Linked DNA regions of Homo sapiens: region 2 is linked to region 1. The links come from fine-mapping of genetic effects on gene expression. A gene starts in region 1. The other region holds a variant in brackets. All regions are shown on one strand. Distances are between the middles of the regions.

Region 1 (12,264 bases):
GCACTCCAGCCTAGGTGACAGAGTAAAACTATCTGAAAAATAAAAATAAAACAGCACTTGTCAAACATTAGTGTTCATAAAAGTTACCTGGAGTTCATCAGCAAAGATTCCCCTCATGACTCGGAAGGGGACTGAGAATCTGCATTTCTTTCTACCCAGCTCCCAGGTGATGCTGACAGTGACCCTGATGCTTTTAACACTTAGGGTGCAGGATTAGGAACCAGATGGGACTGGCGGTGGATGGCCCTACTCACTGTTCTTGTTATTGAAAACCGACACAGACAACGCGTGTTCAATGTCTTTGAGCTTGATGTCTTCCCTCTGCTTTCCACTCCTCCAGAAATCCAAAGCCACATCTGTGATCCTTTCTGCTCCAGCATTGCTGCAAAACAATCCCAGTGGGTAAGGACAGGGTTTTCTCCTGGAGCTCAGAGGCTTGGGCTCGGGGCCCATCCATCATGTCCTAGCCCTGACCTTACCTGAGAAATATGAACATGGCTTTCTGGTAGGAGACCCCATCCACCAGGTCATAATAGTCGAGGAAAGGCTTGATGGCATCTATGAGGCCTGCATGCATCTTATCCATTTCATCAAATATGAAGATGGACCTCGCACAGGCACTCACGTTGCCTCGAATCCACAACTGTAACTGATCCTGAATTAAAAGGGGAAAAAGCGAACACAAAGTTCTCAGCCAGGGCCATCAATCAGCTCCTTCTACCACTAAGAACCGCAGCTTCACTTACAGACCACTGTGCACTCGGCACTAAGAACTTTACATGCCCAAAATCTTCTTTGTTCCTACCAACCCCATGGAGTGGGCACTATCGTTCTCATTTTACAGATGAGGGAACTGAGGCACAGAGAGCGCTTACTCCACTTGCCCAAGACTATATGTGGCAGAGCTGGGACCTGAACCCAGTCCTGTCTCACTCCAAAGCCCGATACTTTGGTTACGGTTCCCGCACTGCGAGATGCCACACGGATGCTGTCAGAGATGCTGCTCTTTTGTCATCAAAGGGGCAATGTGGGATGTCATGAGGATACTGATTTTTATTTAAAAAGGGGGTGGGGTCGGGCATGGTGGCTCACACCTGTAATCCCAGCACTTTGGGAGGCTGAGGCAGACGGATAAGTTGAGGTCAGGGGTTTGAGACCAGCCTGGCCAACATGGTGAAACCCCATCTCTATTAAAATACAAAAATTAGGGCCAGGCATGGTGGTTCATGCCTGTAATCCCAGCACTTTGGGAGGCCAAAGTGGGTGGATCACCTGAGGTCAGGAGTTCAAGACCAGCCTGGCCAACATGGTGAAACCTGGTCTCTACTAAAAAAAATACAAAAAAATTAGCTGGGTATGGTGGCAGGTGCTTATAGTCCCAGCTACTCAGGAGGCTGAGGTAGAATTGCATGAACCTGGGAGGCGGAGGTTGCGGTGAGCCAAGATCAAGCCATTGCACTCCAGCGTGGCGACAGAGCAAGACTCCATTAAAAAAAAAAATACAAAAATTAGCCAGGCATAGTGGCAGGCGCCTGTAATCCCAGGTACTTGGGAGGCTGAGGCTTGAGAATCGCTGGAACCTGGGAGGTGGAGGTTGCAGTGAGCTAAGATCACCCCACTGCACTCCAGCACTCCAGCCTGGGAGACAGAGCAAGACTCCGTCTCAAAAAAAAAAAATAATAATAATAATAAATAAATAAAATAAAATAAAATAAATAAATAAAATAAACAAGGATTCACTCAGACCTGTTAGGCTCCAGCAGCCAAGGTTTCTCACTCTGGTGACCAAACTTATATGCAATAACAGGGAACATGCACTGAGTGTTCACTATGGGAACAACAATATTCTAAGCACTGTTCATATAACTTTTTTTTTTTGACAGTCTCGCTCTGTTACCCAGACTGGAGTGCAATGACATGATCTCAGCTCACTGCAACCTCTGCCTCCCAGATTCAAGCGATTCCCTTGCCTCAGCCCCCTGAGTAGCTGAGACTACAGGCACCTGCCACCACGCCCAGCTAATTTTTGTATTTTTAGTAGAGATGGGGTTTCACCATCTTGGCCAGGCTGGTCTTGAACTCTTGACCTTGTGATCCACCCGCTTCGGCCTCCCAAAGTGCTGGGATTACAGGCGCGAGCCACCACACCTGGTCTGTTCATAGAACATTTTACTGTGACCTCCCAAAACCCATCACGGTAGTTACCATTGTGCTCCTTCTTTTACAAATGAGAAAACTGAGGCACAGACAAGTGAAGTAACTTTGCCCAAAGTCACAGTTATTGTTAGTGAAGCCTCAATTCTAAGATGATCAACTTATCCTGATTCGTCTAGAATGGTTCTTGTTTGTTTGGGACAGGGTCTCACTCCGTCACCCAGGCTGGACTGCAGTGGCTGTCTGCTCACTGCAGCCTCGACCTCCCAGGTTCAAGCCATCCTTCTGCCTCAGCCCCCTAAGTAGCTGGGACTACAGGTGCATGCCACCATGCCTGACTAATTTTTTTGTATTTTTTTAGTAGAGATGGGGTTTCACCATGTTCCCCAGGCTGGTCTGGAACTCTTGAGCTCAAGGGATCAGCCGGTTTTGGCTTCCCGTAGTGCTAGAATTATAGGCATGAGCCACCACACCCGTGGAACATTCGCATTTTAGTACAGAACCGCTGGACAGTGGGTGACCCACACGCTCACCCAGACAGAAGGGAAAAATGTGTTCACATTTTTCCATAGATACAGTCAGGGATAAATAACTGATTGAGGCCAGGCATGGTGGCTCATACCTGTAATTTCAGCACTTTGGGAAGTAGAGACAGCTGGATGACCTTGAGGTCAGGAGTTTGAGACCAGCCTGGCCAACAAGGTGAAACCCTGTCTCTATTAAAAATACAAAAATTAGCTGGGTGTGGTGGCAGGTGCCTGTAATACCAGCTACTTGGGAGGCTGAGGCAGCAGAATCACTTGAATCCGGGAGGCAGAGTTTGCGGTGAGCCGAGATCAAGATCCAGATGGTGCTACTGCACTCCAGCCTGGGTGACAAGAATGAAACTCAGTCTCAAAAATAAATAAATAAATAATTGACTGTTTTGCCCATCTTGCAGGTCTGCTACAAGGATCTAAAAGGCAACAGTTAACATTTATTTGTAACATGCACCAGGTACATGTTATGCACTTGACAGACAGAGCTCCCTGGATTGTTACAAGCAACACTTTGTAAGTCAGAATCTGAGTCTCAGGTCAGGCAACTTTCCTAAGACTACGGAGCTGGGAGAGTGTTAGGACTCAAATCCAGATGTGTCTGCTGCCAAAGCCCAAGCTGCTCATCAGTGAGTTCAACCATAAAAGCTGTTTGCGGCTGGGCAAGGTGGCTCACGCCTGTAATCCTAGCACTCTGGGAGGCTGAGGTAGGCAGATCACTTGAGGTCAGGAGTTCGAGACCAGCCTGGCCAATGTGAGGAAACCCCATCTCTACTAGAAATACAAAAATTAGCCGGCTGTGGTGGCACATGCCTGTAGTCACAGCTACTTGGGAGGCTGAGGCAGGAGAATCGCTTGAACCGGGAAGGTGGAGGCTGTAGTGAGCTGAGATGGCGTCACTGCACTCCAGCCTGGACAACAGAGTGAGACCCTGACTCAAAGAAAAAAAAAAAAAGGCAGTTTACAACAGTAGGTTCAACAAACTTAGGACTCTACATGTTTCCTCTTTCACAAAATGAGTGAGATGTGGCCAGGCATGGTGGCTCACGCCTGTAATCCCAGCACTTCGGGAAGCTGAGGCAGGCACATCACCTGAGATCAGGAGTTCGAGACCAGCCTGGCCAAGTTGGCAAAACCCCATCTCTACTAAAAATACAAAAATTAGCTGGGCATGGTGGCAGGACCCTGTAATCCCAGCTACCCGGGAGGCTGAGGCAGGATAATTGCTTCAACCGGGAGGCAGAGGTTGCAGTGAGCTGAGATCATGCCATTGCACTCCAGCCCGGGTAAGAAGAGTGAAACTCCGTCTCAAAATAAAGAAAAAAATAAAAAAATGAGTGAGATGTGTTGATCTCTAAGATGGATTTGATCATGTCCACCTCTAAAATCCCATGACCCTACATACTCACTGGACCGATTTTCAGAACCCACCACAAAGCTTTGATGGTATTAACTGCTCCACGCATCTCAAACTCTTAACTTCTACACCTTTCCAAGGGGAACTGAGACATGAACCGTTTTCCGGGCTCACTCATTTCAACATAGAACTCCCAAATCTCATCCCACAACAAAGAGACCCCAAACCCGATGACATCCAGGAAGGGATTCCAAACTTCCATCCTTGCCTTGTACAAGGTGATGTTTGAAGCATGTGGAAAGTGCAATGTGGCCACAAACAGGTGGACATAGTCACTGTTCAGACCACCCTCGTAAATATTCTCTGCGATGATCTTGCTGACGAAATTTTTGCCGGTGCCTGTCCACCCGTGCAGGGAGAGCGTGAGAGGTTTCTTGGGCTTTGGGTTGTTTATGAAACCAAACACGGCATTTAAGATGATTTTCTTTGCAAGATGCTGTCCAAAGAGGTTGTCGTCCAGATCCTTCTGCAGTGCTGGGAAAGACAAAGCCAATCAGGAGTGGGGAAGAAACAGCGGCAAAATGTAGCCACATTTACAGCCCATAAGAAAGCCAGCAAAGCCGTCTAGACGCCCTCCAAGCACCTTGCGAAACCTCAAGTACTGCGGTCTGTAAGCTCCTGGCCCAGAGGGGACGGCGGTCCAGGGAGCCCTCCCTTTGCTGGTCCTGCCTATTCTAAAGCCCTGGCCCGACTCCTTCCCGAAAAGCCCCTTGGTGCCACTGCCACTGCCACCAGTTTGCACCCCTAACCCCTGTGCTGCTCCTCCCACCCCAAGGCAGAGCCGGGAAAGGAAACAGTTTGGTCCCTCCTGGTCGGCTGCGGAAGAGTCCTCACCATCCTTCCTGTCTCCCGCTAGGCTAGAAAGGAGGCAGAACCCACTTCGGAGGGAGGTTACCACTGGTCCACCCCCAGCTTAGCGCAAAGTAGGCCAACCTGCAGCCTGGCTCCTCAGGTCTCCGACTTAAGTCTGGCACGTCTGTGGTCATGGCCGAGGAGCCAGGCCTCATCCTGCAGGCCGGCCGCTTGGCTTCCGGGGTCCGGCCCCCGCGGACTCAGCTCTGCCCAGGCCCGGCCCTCCTGGGATGTGACCCCTACCCCGGCCTGGCCCTAGTGCCATCCCCCAGCCCCAGCCCCAGCCCCAGCCCCCGCTCCTGAGCCCCAGCCCCCAAACTCCGCTCCAGCCCCAGTCCTAGCCCGGCCCTACTGCCATCCCCCAGCCTCCATCCACCATCCTCAATCCCCTAGCCCCAGCCAACCGCCCTGGTCTTAACCCAGCCCTAGTGCGATCCCCCAGCCCCACCCCCAGCCCCCGGGCCCCGCTCCATCCCCCAGCCCCAGCCCCAGCCCCAACCCGGCCCTAGTGCCATCGCCCAGCCCCAGCCCCCAGGCCCCGCTCCAGCCCTAGTCCTAGCCCGGCCCTGGTGCCATCCCCCGGCCTCCATCCTCCATTCTCCATGCCCTGGTCCTAGTTCAGCCCTAGTGCCATCGCCCAGCCCCAGCCCCAGCCCCAGCCTCCAGCCCCCGCCCCAGCCTACCCTCCCGGCTAAGGCTCCGCTTCTGCCCGCAGCACTCGGCGAAGAGGCAGTAGAGACGCGGGTAGATGTAGCCGGTGAGGACGCCGGCCAGGGCCAGTCCCAGGCTGATGGGCTCCACCGCCTGCACCACGGACGGCGCCAGCAGCAGCAGGCCCAGCACGGCCCGGCCCAGCTTCATGCCCGGACCCGCGCCACCCTGCTTGTTCTCGCGCCGACCGCGAACCGGTGCAGCCGCCAGACCCACGCTTCCGGTTCCTCCTCTCGCGGAGGCCATCTTTCTTCAGGGCAGCCCTCCTCCCGACGCCGGCGGCCGCCATCTTTGTTCGGTACAAAGCCCTGTTTTGCTTCCGGAAACTCGGTTCTGCTCCGCCCCTGTTGGCCACGTGTTTTTGTTTATGGACGTTATTTTTGCCAGGCATGGTGGCTCCTGCCTGTAATCCCAGCCCTTTGGGAGGCTGAGGCGGGCGGATCACCTGAGGTCAGGAGTTCGAGACCAGCCTGACCAACATGGTGAAACCACGTCTCTACTAAAAATATAAAATTAGCCGGGTGTGGTGGTAGGCACCTGTAGCCCTAGCTACTGGGGAGGCTGACACATGAGAATCGCTTGAACCCAGGAGGCGGAGATTGCAGTGAGCCGAGATCTCACCACTGCACTCCAGCCTGGGAGACAGAGCAAGACTGTGTCCCCTCCCCGCAAATAATAATAATAATAATAATAATAATAACGGACGTTATTTTTTAGAACAGATTTACAGAAAAATTGAGAAGATAGTAGAGAGTTCCCATGTGCCACCCATCCCTGCAATTTCCCCTATTACTAAAATCTTACATTATTAGTGTGCTACATTTGTTAAAATTAACGATGCACTGTTGTCATATTAACTAAAGTGTAGTTTATTCAGATTTCCTTCCTTTTACTTAATGCCTTTTTCTGCTGCAGGTTTCCATTCAGGATACCACATTATATTTCGTTGTCATGTCTTAGACTACTGTTAATGACAGTGTCTCAGCCTTTTATTTTTATTTTAGCTGGAGTGCAGTGGCATGATCTCAGCTCACTGCAACCTCTGCCTCCCAGGTTCAAGCGATTCTCCTGTCTCAGCCTCCTGAGCAGCTGGGATTACAGGCACACACCACCATGCCCGGCTAATTTTTGTATTTTTGGTAGAGACGGGGTTTCACCATGTTGGCCAGGATGGTCTTGATCTGACCTCATGATCTGCCCGTCTCAGCCTCCCAAAGTGCTGGGATTACAGGCGTGAGCCACCGCGCCTGGCCTCAGCTTTTTATTTTTGATGACCTTGATAGTTTTGAGGAGTACTGGCCAAATCTTTGGTGGGCTGGCCCTCTATTGGGATTTGATGTTTTTCTCAGGATTAGACAAGCGTTATGGCGTTTTGGAAGGAAGATCACAGAGGTAAAGTGCTATGCTCATCACATCCTACCAAGGAAGGGTTCTTACTGTTCAACGTTACTTACCACTGTTGGTGCTGACTTGATCACTTGACTGAAGTAGTGTTTGTCAGGTCCCCCCACCCCTCTTTTCTCTACTGTACTCTTTGGAAGGACGTCCCCATGCACAGCCCACACGTAAGGAGTCGGGGATTTTGCTCCACCTCCTTGGGGGCAGAGTATCTACAGAAATTATTTGGAATTCTGCATGGGAGATTTGTTTCTTCTCCCCCATGTATTCAATCATTTATATCAGTGTGGACCATTGTTATTTTATCCTTTGTTATACTACAGTACTAATTTTTTTTTCAAATTGTTCTCATTTTGGCCACTGGGAATTTGAGTGGTTCCTTGTGCTCCTTTGACATACACCCAGTGTATATACCAGCTTATTTGGGTTTGAGTGCCTCTTTCCTTTCTGACACTACAGGATACTCCGGGCTCATCTTGTATTTCCTGCCCCAGTCCTAGAATCCTATTTTCTACGAGGAACCCTGATTCCTTTCATTGTAAAATGGCATTAGAAACTGGCTGGGCATGGTGGCTCATGCCTGTAATCCAGCATTTTGGGAGGCTGAGGCAGGTGCATCACCTGAGGTCAGGAGTTTGGGACCAGCCTGACCAATATGGTGAAACCCCATCTCTACTGAAAATACAAAAAAATTAGCTAGGCATGGTTGCGTGTGCCTGTAGTCTCAGCTACATGGGAGGCTGAAACAGGAGAATTCCTTGAACTTGGGAGGTGGAGGTTGCAGTGAGCCGAGATCGCACCACTGCACTCCAGCCTGGGTGACAGAGCGAGACTTCGTATCAAAAAAAAAAAAAAAAAAAAAAAAGAGAAACCAAGGTCTGGGTGCTAGGTGTGCTTCTTGCTATTGAGATGTCATTTCTTTCAGTCTCAGCTGACAGAAAAAAATGTGTGTATATACTGTTAAACACACACATATCTATAAATATTTTTATAGGTAAACATCTGTACCTATATTAAGCTAAACATGAGCTCGTGCTGACATCTCCAACTCTAATCCATTACACAGATCATTGGAGCCTCCTCCCCTTGTTTATCTGTGAATTCCCACCCCAACAGTGAGAGAACCAGCTCCCTCCATCTGGCAGCCACTTTTAAGCTGGATAAAAGATTACTCATTTTCTAGCAAAGGGAACTCTGGCAAGTGAGAACTGTTGACCATCCACTTATTTGCCTGTTCATCCCATAAACACGTGTTGCGTTGCTGTGTGCCAGATGTGCTAGGCCTTTAGTATTCATCTTGGGTTACCCCTGCACATCGCTGGGACCTGTAAATGTTTGTTGAAATATCCTGAAAATATTTTTTAAGTTTCGACTTTTTCGTATTGGATTTAAAATACTTTTGTGCACCTGTTACAAGCCAAACACTATAGGGATCATTCATAGTTTTGAGGACTGCCTATCTGTCAGATTATGGGCTATGCCCTGGGGATTCAAATTTAAAAATTAGGCACACATGGTTCCTGCCTTCACTGACCATATTCAAGTGGAGGAAAAAAAAAAATCTCCATTTTACAGATGAGAAAACTGAGGCTAAGAGTGAAAAGGATCTGTCCAAGGACACAAGTAGTAAGCTGCGAGGTGGGCTCAGATCTGACTCCTGGGCCAAACCACTGTAACCACAATACCTGCTCTAAATCCACCCAGAAGTCAGCCAATCTGCTCTTTCCTCTTTTGGACCCCTGTGGATGCCTCAGGAAAAATGAGGGCACAGGTAAGAAGGTACTTGACAGCAGGTTGCAGCATGTCTATGCTGCAGTGGTCCAATCATAGCTCACTGTTTGAAATAAATGAGAAAATCCATCTCAGTAATTCAGTTTTACATTTAGGCTACCCAAACCATGGGCTTTAAAAACATTACCTGATGCTGGTATAAGAAACATAATACAAACAATAAGGTTGGATTCATTTTGAAATTTAATAATTCTAATAGTAATAAGAAACATAGTTTATGCTTTTTTTTTAATGAAAACAAACAAGTAATTTTGTAAAAGTCAGAAAACACCAGTATCCTTCTGATCTCATCCTGGATTTTTCTGTCAGCTGGAGGATGCATTTCTGACCCCATCCCAGACACGTGAAAGCAGAAGACATGATGCATCTATAATAATGAAAGCACAATCTAAAGAGTATTATCACACCGTGAACAGCTTCTTCCTGACCCAGAGCAAATATTAAGAGAAAGACAATATATTTACAAACAAGATTTAATAATGCTCACAAGAATAGAGTTTGCCCCCAAATGGAAAATTACACATTATTTTGTTTCAAAAAGTTATAAATTTAGTGCTTGAAAAATCCAGCAGGTAAGTAGAAGGACTAACAGGGTCTGTTTCTGGAACTGTCCGCCAGCAAATGAGCATGCTCTGTCCTGGAAGCCATTTTTCTTTTTCTTTTTTTTTTTTTTTTTTTTTTTTGAGACAGAGTTTTTTGCTCGTTGCCCAGGCTGGAGTACAAAGGTGCAATCTCGGCTCACCACAACCTCCGCCTCTTGGGTTCAAGCAATTCTCCTGCCTCAGCCTCCTGAGCAGCTGGGATTACAGGCATGTGCCACCACGCCTGGCTAACTTTTCTGTATTTTCAGTAGAGACTGGGTTTCTCCATGTTGGTCAGGCTGGTCTCAAACTCCCGACCTCAGGTGATCCGCCCACCTCGGCCTCCCAAAGTGCTGGGATTACAGGCAGGAGCCACCACGCCCGGCCAGGAAGCCATTTTTCATGGGAGGGATATAGGGAGAGGAAGGCGATATTTACATCCCACTCTGCACAACTCAGTACCGCCTATTCATTTTCTTGAACTTCTCATAATGATAGTCATCAGTTGCCTTCTCGTTAGCAGGACGCTTGCGGTTAGGAGGGGACCCTGAGAAGGAAAAGAACAGGAAAGGTGGTTTGCCATGCTGGAACCCACTGCTAGACTTTACTCCATGCAGGCAAAGACAACTGCCTGTTTCCTTCCCCACAGGAGCCCCAGCGCCTAACCCAGTGAACACAGTAGGGCCTCAGTAGATACGTATTTGTCTTTTTTTTTTTCTTTTCTTTTCTTTTTTTTGAGATGGAGTCTCACCCTGTTGCCCAGGCTAGAGTGTAATGGCATGATCTCAGCTCACTGCAACCTCCAACTCCCGAGTTCAAGTGATTCTCCTGCCTCAGCCTCCTGAGTAGCTGGGATTACAGGCACCTGCCACCTCACCTGGCTAATTTTTGTATTTTTAGTAGAGACGGGGTTCACCATGTTGGCCAGGCTCGTCTTGAACTCCTGACCTTAGGTGATCTGCCTGCCTCTGCCTCCCAAAGTGCTGGGATTACAGGCATGGGCCACCGAGCATGGCCAATACCTTTTTCTTTTCTTTAAAAAAAAGATGTGGTCTCACTCTGTCACGCAGGCTAGAGTGCAGTGGTCCAATCATAGCTCACTGCAGCCTTGAACTCTTAGTCTCAAGCAATCCTCCTGTCCCAGCTTCCCCAGCAGCTGAGACTACAAGTGTGAGGCACTGCACCCAGCTAACCTTATGAGTAGCTTTTATTTGTCCTTACTGAAATTTTCTAACTTCTTGAGTCTCTACTGTGCGTGAGAATATGAGAGAGTATGAATTCTCAGAGTAATCCTAACAGGTAGGTTCTATTAGGATTCCAATGAGGAAACTGAGGCTTAGAAAGGGGAAGGCACATAGTCATGGTCCAGAGCATGGACTGGAACCCATATGCCCCGGCTCCAATGCCAGGCTCCACCCTGTCCCCCGCTGCATCCTGCCTCCATGGGTTCCCACATTGCTGAGCACTCCAGGCAGCCCCGAGGCCTTTGTTGCACTCACGCTCAGGCTCTGGCTTCTCCGTGTCACCTACTCTCAAGGGCCGGGCCTTGGGCTCTTCTTTGTTTCTCCGTATGGGCGCGTTGAGCTCCTCATGATAAACTGGACCCAAAGAGACCAGGGGACACGTTAGAACATGAGGTTCCTAGGGATCTCAGCCCAAATAGGGGAATGGGGGCAAGACTGCTCTCCGAGGGGCTTACATCTGTTGTGCTGCACATAATTCACAGCCATGTTGGTAGGCACGAAGGAGGTCTCGCTGTCTTTCTTCTTGTTCTGCTGCTCTGCCAGCAGACGGGCCTTGGCATCCTCCGTGGAAATGATATTTTTTATTTTAGCACTATGGAGAGAAAGAAACCACACCACTTAGAAGATGATAGCACCTTACTACTCAGACATGAGTGGTGAGGCTGGCAGCCCAGCAGTACATAAGAAAATCATGTGTCCTGGGGCACAGCTCTCCACTTTATCAAGCACACTTGTAGTCACATTCTCACGGGACTCTCACGGCTGTCGGAGAACCACAGTTACTCTGCTCTTCTGATCAAGAGCAAATTGAGCTTCAGAGAAGTAAAATGCTTAAGGCTCAAAGTTTGTAAAGGCCAGAAAAGAGCCCAGAAGCCTCCCAGCTTTCTACTGTACCAGAAGATTATTCTAACAATTGTACCTCTTCCATAACAATTCCCTTTTAAAGTGGATATTTTAAGAAGGATCATGGGGAGAAGGGGTGAGTGAGCCTTTAACATGGCTCCTGCTAGAAGAAAACAGAAGAATAAAGGGCCTGATACAGCTGAACAGCTGTAACACGCTAAAGAACCACTTTTGCTTCCAGCAGTCAGGGGCCCTTACTACTCTGATCAAGCCTTCAGCGAAACTTCTAGCAACAACCTGCCAGGGACAATCTCATTTGTATTTGTAGGATTCTAAGGACACAGATAAGAACATGGGGTCTCATTACATTGCCCAGGCTGGTCTTGAACTCCTGGGCTCAAGTGATCCTCCCACCTTGGCCTCCCAAAGAGCTAGGATAACAGGCACAAGTCACCATGTCTGGCCTTTTTTTTTTTTTTTTAAAGGGTCTTACTCTGTCACCCAGACTGGTGTGCAGTGGTGCAATCATGGCTCACTGTAGCCTCAACTCCTGAGCTCAAGTGACAGCCCAGCTAATTTTTTAAATTTTTTTGAGAGACAGGAGTCTGACTATATTTCTCAGGCTGATCTCCTGGCCTCACGTGATCCTCCTGCCTTGGCCTCCCAAGTACTGGGATTATAGGCTTATAGGCATCAGCCACCATACCTGTCCCCCATAAATTTTTTTTTCCTTTTTT
Region 2 (12,264 bases), 31 kb before region 1:
ACAGCAGGAGTATCTCAGGTAAGGTTGGGAGAGCTTGGAGGAACGAAGCCTGGAGGGATTATGAAAGCAAAATGGACAATATGTGCCTGTATTTCCCCCAGCACAGCACTGATCCCACTGGACTGTAATTGCTGGGGACTTGCCCCTCTGCCCCCACCTCCCGACCAGGTGGGAGTCCTGGTGGGTGGTGCCAAGTCTTTCTTATTGACTGTTGAGTCCCAACACCTGACAAAGAGGAAGCCCCCGGCCACAAGTAGATAGGGGATGCATTTCCAACGTGAGTAGAATGGATGATAGTGGCCCAGAGTTCAAGGAGAGAACTTCCTGGAAGACTTGGCTCCCACAACAGCCACCCCCTTATTTATTTATTTATCTATTTTTTTTTTTGAGACGGAGTCTCACTCTGTCACCTGGGCTGGAGTGCAGTGGTGAAATCTCAGCTCACTGCAACCTCCACCTCCCAGGTTCAAGAGATTCTCCTCCCTCAGCCTCCCAAGTAGCTGGGATGACAGGCACCTGCCACTACACCCGGCTAATTTTGTGTATTTTTAGTAGAGACAGGGTTTCACCATGTTGGCCAGGCTGGTCTCAAACTCCTGACTTCATGATTCGCCTGCCTCAGCCTCCCAAAGTGCTGGGATTACAGGCGTGAGCCACCGCGCCTGGCCGCTAGCCATCCCCTTATTATCTCAGATTCCTGCACGTCCGTCTCACCGTACTTGCATCCCACACCATGGTCACTTGTTTACTGGTCTGTCCTGAAAGCTCTCTGCTGAGAGGCCTCCACACTCATCATCTTAAGTGACCCTCAGGCAACCCTATAAGGTAAGGACAACCATGCCACCAACGAGGAAACTGAGACCTAGAGGGGTTGGGCAACCAGCCCAGGGTCATGTTCATGATCATGGCAGAGGTGGAATTGGAACCCAGGCATTGTGCTCCTCCCTGTTGGACTGTTGGGGGAAAGAGTCAGGACACTGGGGTGGAGCCCCCACATGAGCCCAGCGTCTGTCCTGGCTCCAGCACTTTCTTTTTTTCTTTTCTTTCTTTTTTTTTTTTTTTGAGACGGAGTCTCACTCTGTCGCCCAGGCTGGAGTGCAGTGGCGCTATCTCGGCTCACTGCAATGTCTGCCTCCTGGGTTCAAGCAATTCTCCTGCCTCAGCCTCCTAAGCAGCTGGGATTACAGGCGCGCACCACCATGCCCGGCTAATTTTTTGTATTTTTAGTAGAGATGGGGTTTCACCATGTTGGTCAGGCTGGTCTCAAACACCTGACCGCGTGATCCCCCGCCTCGGCCTCCCAACAGCACTTTCTAGATGTTTAGGAACTCCCTTGGGCAAGTGACTTCATTTCTCTGCAAGTCACCTTCTTTGCCTGCAAAATGCAGATTTCCAATCCGCTACCTCACAGGGTTGCTCTGGATTTAAATGAGATAATGACTGTAACGCTCCCAGAGCCTGGCACTGAGCAAGCATTTCATAAATAAAACACTATCTATCTAATAATAATATTTGTAACCATCTATAACAAATATACTAATCTATAGTGACAGAACGAGATCGGTGGTTGACAGGGAGAGAACGTGAGGGGAGAGACAAGAGAAAGGGATGACAAGGTGGCACAAGGAATCTTCTGGGCATGGTGGGTATGTTCACGACCTTGTTTGTGGCGATGGTTGCATGGGTGCGTACAAATGTCAAAACTTAGCAAATTGCACTTTTTTTTTTTGAGATGGAATTTCACTCTTGTCGCCCAGGCTGGAGTGCAGTGGCACGATCTGGGCTCACTGCCAAGTCCACGTCCCGGGTTCAGGTGATTCTCCTGCCTCAGCCTCCCAAGTAGCTGGGATTACAGGTGCTCGCCGCCACACCCAGCTAATTTTTCTATTTTTAGTAGAGCTGGGCGCTGCAAATTGCACACTTTAAATATGTGCAGTTTGTTCTGTGTCAATGATACCTCAATAAAGCAGTGTGAAAGCACATGCGATATTCTATGATCTTAAGATTTCATAGGAATAGGGCTGGGCTCAGTGGTTCATGCCTGTAATCCCAGCACTTTGAGAGGCCAAGGCAGGGGGATTGCCTGAGCTCAGGAGTTCGAGACCATCATCCTGGGCAACATGGCAAAACCCTGTCTCTACTACAAATACAAAAATTAGCCAGGCATGATGGCACATGCCTATAATCCCTGCTACTCCGGAGGCTGAGGTGGGAGGATTGCCTGAGCCTGGGATCTTGAGCCATCACTGCACTCCAGCCTGGGTGATAGAGTGAGATCCTGTATTTAAAAAAAAAAGATTTCATAGAAATAGGCCACACATGGTGGCATGCACGTGTAATCCCAGCTACTCTGGAGGCTGAGGCAGGAGGATTGTGTGAAGCCAGGAGTTCAAGGCTGCAGTGAGCTATGATCACACCTGTGAATAGCCACTGCACTCCAATCTGGGCAACATGGTGAGACCCTGTCTCAAAAAACAAAACGACGAAACAAAAAGGTTGCATAGAAATAAACTGTGTAATATTGATACACAAAATACCAAACAAGAAAAGGAGAATGCCAAATATCATGTACCCCTTGGAAGGCCCCCTGAAAGATAGAGGCACTAACATTTGGATGAGAACAGAATTTAATGTAAACTTTTGACTTTTTTTTTTGAGACAGGGTCTGGCTCTGCCTTCAGGCTGGAGTGCAGTGGCGTGATCACGGCTCACTGCAGCCTTGACCTCCAGGCTGAAGCAATCCTCCCACCTCAGCCTCCCGGGTAGTTGGGACTACAGGAACTCGCCACCACATCCGGCTAAATTTTGTAGTTTATAGTAGAGACGGGGTTTCGCCATGTTGCCCAGGCTGGTCTCAAACTCCTGGACTCGAGCAATCCACCCACCCTGGCCCCCCAACGTATTGGGATTACAGGTGTGAGCCACAGCGCCCAGTGGAACTGTTGACATGTTAAATAATCTAGACTTTTGAACTTTTTCTGTTAAGTTGTTGTTGTTTTTAGCCCATCTGGAGGTTGCAGATAAGCCCAGCTGCAGGTCCTCAAACCTGCAGCTCACCAGCACCCTCTAGTGCCTTCTTGGTGTGAGCACATGAAGTCTCCCAGCTGTGGGCAGTTTCCCGTCTATCAGCACAAGGACACCTCTCTTTAAAATCCTCAAGTCTGACGCTGGGTGGGAAATGGGTGTGGATCCGGGGCGCTGTCTCTGGTCCTGAAAGTCACAGTCAGCTGCGAAACCTAAGTCCAGAGCCCTCTCTGCAGCTGAATCACCCTTCCACACCTTTCCCAGGCCTTCTTTCCATTTATGATGGCCTCGACGAGTAAGCTGGTAGTTTTGAATGTTTTGGATTGACAATTTAAATGTCATAGGCAATGCTTCTGGACAGCAATGATAGAAAGAGTAAGGAGAGTGGCCAGGCGCAGTGGTTCATGCCTGTAATCCCAGCACTTTGGGAGGCCGAGGCGGGCGGATCACAAGGTCAAGAGATTGAGACCATCCTGGCCAACATGGTGAAATCCCGTCTCTACTAAAAATACAAAAATAAATTAGCCGGGCATGGTGGCGCATGCCTGTAATCCCAGCTACTTGGGAGGCCGAGGCAGGAGTATCGCTTGAATTCGGGAGGTGGAGGTTGCAGTGAGCTGAGATCACACCACTGCACCCCAGCCTGGCGAGAGAGCGAGACTCCATCTAAAGAAAAAAAAAAGAGAAAAAAGAAAGAAAGAAAGAAAGAGTAAGGAGAATGGGAACGAGTGTGAGATGAGTAATATGCTGGCCTTCTAGCAACACAGGACGACAGCCAGCACAGACTCGGACAATTTATGAAAACCAAATATACAGTCTTAAAATAGAATGTGGGCCTAAATACCTGGAATCACCCCCGTGGTAAGATTTGTAACAAAAAGATTAATATGAGACCAGGCACAATGGCTCACATCTGCAATCCCAGCACTTTGGGAGGCCGAGGTGGGTGGATCACTTGAAGCCAGGAGTTCAAGACCAGCCTGGGCAACATGGTGAAACCCCGTCTCTACTAAAAATTAGCTGGGCATGATGGCGGGCGCCTGTAATCCCAGCTACTCGGAAGGCTAAAACATGAGAATCGCTTGAACTCAGGAGGCAGAGGTTGCAGTGAGCCAAGATTGCACCACTGCACTCCAGCCTGGACAACAGAGCAAGACTCTGTCTCAAAAAAAAGAATTAATGTGAACGGAGTTAATAATTTGAATGGAGCAGTGGACCCAAGAGCCATATTGGTGCTGACAAAATGGCAGCATTTATTGTATAAAGCTTCAACGTGGTCCTGCAAGAGCTCTGGCACCTAATGACATCTAGAGAAAATGTGAAAGTCCCTCAGCTGCCTGAAGGACAGTGTTATGGCAACTAATCCAAAAGAAGAGCTACAGGTCCTTCTTGCCTTTTTGACTTAAGCAGTCTTCATTGTTCACAGCAGTAAATTTTCTTTTTGGTTGTTGTTGTTTTGTTTTGTTTTTTTTTTTAAGATGGAGCCTCCCTCTGTTGCCCAGACTGGAGTGCAGTGGTGCGATCTCGGGTCACTGCAACCTCCACCTCCTGGGGTTCACGCCATTCTCCTGCCTCAGCCTCTTGAGTAGCTGGGACTACAGTCACCTGCCACCACACCTGGCTAATTTTTGTATTTTCAGTAGAGATGGGGTTTCATCATGTTGGCCAGGCTGGTCCTGAACTCCTGACCTCAGGTGATCTGCCTGCCTCGGCCTCCCAAAGTGCTGGGATTATAGGCATCAGCCACCGTGCCTGGCCAATACCCACACTTTTAAGGGAACAAAATGTTATCCAAGTATTTACAGTAGCACTAACTGGGGGTGGGGAGACCCAGGCACAACGACCCCCAGCCCATGGCTCATTGATCCAAGGTCAACCAGCCCAGGTTGGGCCAATCAGGTCCTCTCTCTGCAAACTCAAAGTTGGACCCAAGCATGCAGGTATGGGAAGTGGCCAAGCCTGATCCACCTGTGGGCAATGTCCCAGCAAAAGGTCCCCCAACTCCTGCCCCTGAGTCCTAGACAACACCCCGGGGACCCTGCTCTTCCTGAGATGTGGTCAGTCATTTCTCACATTTTTGTGAGTCACCCTGACCTCCTCTAACAAACCCTAAAAAAGCCCAAATCACGGTCAGCGTCTGTTGTTTGGAAACAAAGAACTTCAACTGATGGAGCAATTGGCTACTTAAGAGAGTGGGAGATGGGCAGCAGGTGCTTAGCGAATTGTGGGGACTGGGAAGCGATTACTGAGCCCACATGGGGAAAAATGCAGAGAGGCACCCCCCTTCC[C/T]ACCATCCATCTTCCAGGAGAGGGGAGTACCAGTGCCCACAGTGACAAAGCAGCTAAGCCAATTTCACCTGGACCTCCCTGAGGACCACCTACCTCCAAGAGGTCAGCTCCAGCACCCTGGGAAGTCACTGCCTCAGGCCAATCAATGGAGGGGTGACAGAGGCCAAGATCCCACCACCACCAGCACCAGGGCAGAGCAGTGGCTCTTCATGAAAGTGGGACCCTGAAATCTATTGAAAGATACCTTTGCTGGGCATGGTGGCTCACGGCTGTAATCCCAACGCTTAGAGGCCGAGGCGGGAGGATTGCTTGAGCCCAGGAGTTTGAGACCAGCCTGGGCAACACAATGAGAACCCATCTCTACAAAAAATAAAAAATTAGCTGGGCACAGTGGCACACGCCTGTAGTCCAAGCTACTCAGGAGGCTGAGGTGGGAGGATCACTTTTGCCTCAGAGGTTGAAGCTGCAGTGAGCGGTGATCACACCACTGCACTCTAGCCTGGGTGACAGGGTGAGACCCTATCTCTAAACAAACAAACAAACAAACATATCAGTGCTATTTTGGCAAGCTGTAATCAATGGAATGCTGACTCAATTCGGAATTTTAACATTCAGAGGCTCATGGTCATAGGAACTTAAAAAAATTTTTTTTGAATTTTAATTGTGCTAAAAAACACATCATATAAAGTTTACCATCTTCACCATTTTTCAGGGTACAACTCAGTGGCATTAAGCATATGCACCTGTTGGACATCCAATCATCTCCAGAACTTTTCCTCTTCCCAAACTGAAGCTCTTGTCTCCATTAAACACTAACTCCACAGCCCCCCTTCCCCAGCCTCTGGAAACCACCTTTCTACTTTCTGTCTGTATGATTTTGACTTCTCTAAGGACCTCATAGAAGTGGAATCTTACAGTGTTTGTCTTCTTGTGATGGCTGATTCTACCTAGTATGATGATCATAGAAACTTTTGATACACTTTAAAATTTCACTATATAGGCCGGGCGCGGTGGCTGACGCCTGTAATCCCAGCACTTTGGGAGGCCGAGGCAGGCGGACCACCTGAGGTCTGGAGTTCGAGACTAGCCTGACCAACATGGAGAAACCCCATCTCTACTAAAAATACAAAATTAGCCGGGGGGATGGCGCATGCCTGTAATACCAGCTACTCCGGAGGCTGAGGCAGGAGAATGGCTTGAATCCAGGAGGCGGAGGTTGCTGTGAGCCGAGATCGCGCCATTGCACTCTAGCTTGGGCAACAAGAGTGAAACTCCATCTCAAAAAAAAAAAAAACAATTCACTATACAGCCAGGCGCAGTGGCTCATGCCTGTAATCCCAGCATGTTGGGAGGCCGAGGCGGGTGGATCACCTGAGCTCAGGAGTTTGAAACCAGCCTGACCAACATGGTGAAACCCCATCTCTACTAAACAAAAATCAGCTGGGTGTGGCAGCGGGTACCTATAATCCCAGCTACTCGGGAGGCTGAGGCAGAAGAATCGCTTGAACCCAGGAGGCGGAGGTTGCAATGAGCCAAGATCATGCCATTGCACTCCAGCCTGGGCAACAAGAACAAAACTCCATGTCAAAAAAAAGAAAAAAGACACCAAACATGTGAGGTGGGCAGGAAACATGGATGGAAAACCCCCACTGTGCTTTCCTGTACCTGGGGTGGTGGAACTGCTGAGGGGTCCCTAGAGGCAGAGATGTCCAAGGCACGACTCCTGACATGTAACGGGGCTAGAGTTGCCGCCCGAGAAAAGGTCCCCCAAGCCCATCAGATTGAGCCTGCTTGGAGGCAGCCTCCCTAACCTCTGCAGAATAGCCCCCCTGGGGGTGCTAGCTTTTGAGTTTTTGAAGCAAAGTACCTAGAAGGACTTAGCTGAGATCACAAAAGAAATTGAGTTCACTGCCATAGGGCCCCCAGCACTTGCTTATGATGACATAGGAGCCGCACTAAACCCGCTGCACTGGAAGGGATGAGAAGCCTGAGGCTCAGAGAAGGTGGGTGACTTGCCCTGGGTCACACAGGAAACATGACAGCCAGAATGTAAACTCAGGCGGGTCTGCTTCCGGAGGCAGCATTTTGGAAAATTCTTTGTCCGACAGAAAGGGAGTGTGTTTTTCACAAATATTTGACATACGCCTTGGACATAGTACCGCACTAAGCACTACAGGTGAACAGAACAAATCCTGCCTTCGAGGTTACCGTACATTCAAGCAAACAGGGAAACGAGTCCCATTAGAGTATGAGAAACAGGACAGGCAGGGATGGGATGGGGAGGAGCAGGAGGACACCTGGGGAAGGTGGCAGGTCAGGGGAAGAGGCTGGGCCTGGAGCAGTCACCTGGCCTGGGGCTTGTCTTAGCTTCTCCCAGTAGTTCCCTCACCTGCAAATGAAACATTTGTTTCACAAGGTGTCATGAAGACACCTGGCTCAATCTTAGATGCTCAATTAAGGTAAACTCCTTTCATTTCCAAGGGGAAGGAGAGGAGCAGGGAAGAGGTTTCCTGAGACCTGTGGTGGATTAGAGATGCCCAGAGGGTCCCCAAAGGGGATGTCCTGGCCCTTGTGTGGTCAGTCCTTCATGGTGGGGACAGGCCCTTACTCTGCAGGGCCTTAGGCATCCCTGGCCCGCAGATCAGTCTGTCCTCTTGGAGAGTGTTCTATCCTTGAACACCAAGCACATATTTATGGAGCACCTACTGTGTCCTGGTCAGAGTTCTGGGAATTAGAGACACAGAGGACAAAAGACAAGGTCCCTGCCCTCCTGAAGCTCTCGTGGCAGTGGGAGAGGAGGGCAATAAACAAGGACTCAGATGGGGTGATAGGAGAGAGAGCAGGTGCCTGGGGGGTAGGAGTAAGTCTACTGTCGACGGGGGAGGTGGGCTTGGAGCTGAGGGTTAGAAGCTGTTAGCTGTGTGGGGCTTGGAGGCAAGAGTCCAGGCTGAGAACACGTTATATGTGAAAACTCCGAGGCAGGAGAGAGAAGGGGCGGGGGGCCTGAGAACGAGGGAGCCTGTGGGATGAGAACGAGGGAGGCTGTGGGATGAGAACGAGGGAGGCTATGGGATGAGAAAGGCTCTCTGAGAGGAAAGTGTGCACATCACTGGGGCTGGGAGGTCAGAGGAAGGAGGGCACCTTTCTTCCCAAGGGTTTTGGGAAGCCATCGACAGGTACCAAGCAAGAATAGCAGGACCCAGTTCCTTGTAAAAAGACCACCTGTCCCTGTTGTAGGGAGAATGACTCAGAGAGGATGGGGTGAAGATGTTTGCACTTACCGTGACAGACACCCCGGTGGGAAGGACTTTTTTTTTTTTGAGACAGAGTCTCACTCTGTTGCCCAGGCTGGAGTGCAGCAGCACAATCACAGCTCACTGCAAACTCCTGGGCTCAGGTGATCCTCCCACCTCAGCCTCCTGAGTAGCTGGGACCACAGGTGCAAGCTACCATGCCTGACTAATTTTTGTATTTTTTGTAGAGATGGGGTCTCGCTATGTTGCCCAGGCTGGTCTCAAACTCCTGAGCTCAAGTGTTCCTGGGAGGGACATGTTTGGGGAAAGTGACCAAGGCTCCCATTTCAACTGTGCAGCTACTGGGCTGTCTAGGGAATAGCCAGAGGTGTCCTGGGTGTGGCCAGGTATGGGTCCTGGAGAAAGTTGGGGGCCTCTCACCCAGGGAGAGAGGGGAGAGAAAGAAGATCTGGAACTGAGCCTAGGAGCCTCTCAGGATTTTAAGTGGGGAGACGGGGAAGCAGCAGCAACCTAGGAGGCTGGTGGCAGGGAGGGAGGATACCATTTAGCCAGGATGCAGGCTCCAGATCAGTTCCAAAGTCCCTCCCTGGCAGCTGCTGATTCAGAAGGGGGTTTCTAGCACCTGCAAGAAAAAGCATGACGCGGACGGGAGGATGGAGGGGGAAGGGGCTGCCAGGCAGAGCATGATTTGGGCAGAGGTTGTCACACATTTTTGCTCACACATCAGATTAACATTGAAAATTTTCATTGTGAGTTTATTTATTTATTTATTGAGATGGAGTCTCACCCTGTTGCCCAGGCTGGAGTGCAGTGACGCAATCTTGGCTCACTGCAACCTCCACCTGCCAGATTCAAGAGATTCTCCTGTCTCAGCCTCCCGAGTAGCTGGGATTACAGGTGCACATGCCACCATGTCTGGCTAATTTTTGTATTTTTAGTGGAGATGGGGTTTCACCATGCTGGCCAGGCTGGTCTGGAATTCCTGACCTCAGGTGATCTGTCCCCCTCGGCCTCCCAAAGTGCTGGGATTACAGGCGTGAGTCACCTCGCCCTGCCCATTGTGAGTTTAAATGGTCACAAAAGACATAATTTTTGCACTTTAAGATAACACTGTAGGGCCGGGCGCGGTGGCTCACACCTGTAATCCCAGCACTTTGGGAGGCCGAGGCGGGCGGATCACGAGGTCAGGAGATCGAGACCATCCTGGCTAACACGGTGAAACCCCGTCTCTACTAAAAATCCAAAAAAAAAAAAAAAAAATTAGCTGGGTGTGGTGGCGGGCGCCTGTAGTCCCAGCTACTTGGGAGGCTGAGGCAGGAGAATGGCGTGAACCCGGGAGGCGGAGCTTGCAGTGAGCCGAGACCTCGCCACTGCACTCCAGCCTGGGTGACAGAGCGAGACTCCATCTCAAAAAAAAAAAAAAAAAAAAAAAGATAACACTGTTGCATTGCTTGTCTAATTACTCGGTGGAATCTAGATGCCACAGCAATGTAACCTCCCATCCATGTATCAAACACATGAACAAGTCAGACACTTATGATCTTTTTTGTACTAGAACCCGTATTTCCATTCCACTCTCTCATCAAATGTCATGTTAATGAAATTTTTTTCTTCCCCTTTTTTTTTTTTTTGCCTAACAGTCTTATTGATCATGCTATCTTATTTCTCTGCAACAAAAATATGTATATACTACAAATGAAAACTTAACATAGGCCCGGTGCGGCCTAAAACTATAAAACCTAATATAGTTTTTTTTTTTTTTTCTGGTGACCACAAAACCCTAGGTATTAAATATTTCTTTTGGATTATTTTTAGTATACAATTGCTCAAAATAACATAAATAGGTTACAAACTTTTTTTTTTTTTTGAGAAGGAGTCTCACACTGTGGCCCAGGCTGGAGTGCAGTGGCACGATCTGGGCTCACTGCAACTTCCGCCTCCCGGGTTCAAGGGATTCTCCTGCGTCAGCCTCCTGAGTAGCTGGGATTACAGGTGTGCACCCCTATGCCTGGCTAATTTTTGTATTTTTAGTAGAGACGGGATTTTGCCATGTTGGCCAGGCTGGTCTCAGACTCCTGATCTCAAGTGATCCGCCTGCCGAGGCCTTCCAAAGTGCTAGGATTACAGGCATGAGCCACCACGCCTGGCCAAAATTTTTTTAAAAAGAAAAAACAATTAAAAAGAAATTTATTTCTCACAGTTCTGGAGGCTGGGGAGACCAAGATCAAGATGCCAGCAGATTTGGTGCCTGGTGAAGGTTGCCTTCTGCTTCCAAAATGGTGCCTTCTTGCTGTGTCCTCACGAGGCAGAAGTGGAAGGGTCGAGCTAGTTCCCTCAAGCCCTTTTTTTGAGACAGTCTTGCTCTGTTGCCCAGGCTGGAGTGCAGTGGCACGATCTCGGCTCACTGCAACCTCTACCTCTTAGGCTCAAGTGATTCTCTTGCCTTAGCCCCCCGAGTAGTTGGGATTACAGGCACCCGATACCACACCTGGCTATTTTTTGTATTTTTTAGTAGACAGGGTTTCACCATGTTAGCCAGGCTGGTCTTGAACTCCTGGCCTTAAATGATCCACCTGCCTCCCCAAATGCTGGGATGATTGGCGTGAGTGACTGTGCCCAGCCCCTCAAGCCTTTTTTTTTTTTTTTTTTGAGATGGAGTCTCACTCTGTCGCTCAGGCTGGAGTGTAGTGGCATGATCTGAGTTAACTGCAACCTCCGCCTCCCGGGTTCAAGCGATTCTCCTCCCTCAGCCTCCCGAGTAGCTGGGATTACAGGCACATGCCACCATGCCCGACTAATTTTTTGTATTTTTAGTAGAGATGGGGTTTCACCGTGTTAGCTAGGATGGTCTCGATCTCCTGACCTTGTGATCCGCCCGCCTCGGTCTCCCAAAGTGCTGGGATTACAGGCGTGAGCCACTGCGCCCATCCTCAAGCCCTTTTTATAAGGGTATGAATTCCATTAATGAGGGTAGAGCCCTCTTGGCCTAATCACCTCGAAAAAGGCTCCACCTCTTACGACCACCACAATGGAGACTAACCATGGCACCAATCCACTTGTGTCTTGCAGGACATCGTGTGTATTTTGCTTGATGAATATCAGTTACTGAGTTTTGTAATTCCAGATCTATCTAAACACCACTCATCAAATCCTGCCAGCACCCCGGTATAATCCTTAAAGACAACAAACATTTCCTTTGTGAGCTAAACTGTCTCTCCTGACTTGTGAACTTCACAGGATGGTTGAGAGGGTCAAAGGAGGTGATAGTCCCAGCAAATGGTTCCTGTTGAACTCTTACTCTATGCGGTGCTAAGTGCTCCACGTGCATCAGCTCACTGGTACCCCAGCAACTCCAAGAAGGGACTGTTGTGATCCCCACTTTACAGTTAGGGAAACTGAGTCCCAGAAAGGTGGCATCACATTTCCAGAGCCACTCAGCTAGGAAGAAAGGGAACAAACCAGGTTGTGATTTATAATCCCAACCTCCTCTTCTCCCTCCCAACTCCTGATGCTGCAAAGCCTCTGGAGACAGCAGAGCTGCCCCTTTGTCCCACGTGGCTGCGCCCTGATGAACACACCGGACTTGTCCAAGGCAGCCTCTTGGTCCTCAGGGTCAGCTGGAGAAGCATTTCAATTAGACAGACAGCATGGCCCTGGGTGCCAGGCTGCTTGTTAGACGGCCCTTGGAGAGATGCCGG

What was found. PIP is the estimated chance that this variant, and not a neighbour inherited with it, causes the effect.
Region 2: its variant is fine-mapped to the expression of TOR1A in whole blood (TOPMed, PIP above 0.99).

What each region holds. Positions count from the first base shown.
Region 1 is chr9:129,818,266-129,830,529 of GRCh38, forward strand. It overlaps TOR1A (torsin family 1 member A), which reads right to left and starts at 5,871. Exons shown (of 5, transcript NM_000113.3): 1 at 5,643-5,871; 2 at 4,316-4,581; 3 at 480-655; 4 at 255-382. The coding sequence starts at 5,820. C9orf78 (chromosome 9 open reading frame 78) reads right to left here. Exons shown (of 9, transcript NM_016520.3): 7 at 11,140-11,276; 8 at 10,940-11,038; 9 at 9,025-9,987. The coding sequence ends at 9,896. RefSeq lists silencers at 5,256-5,345, 9,785-10,079 and an enhancer at 5,756-6,065.
Region 2 is chr9:129,787,429-129,799,692 of GRCh38, forward strand. It overlaps the pseudogene UBE2V1P4. Among named protein-coding and RNA genes, the nearest start is that of TOR1B, 9.6 kb to the right of the region's middle. RefSeq lists an enhancer at 2,822-3,011 and a silencer at 3,002-3,296. The variant C/T (reference allele first, on the strand shown) is at 5,313.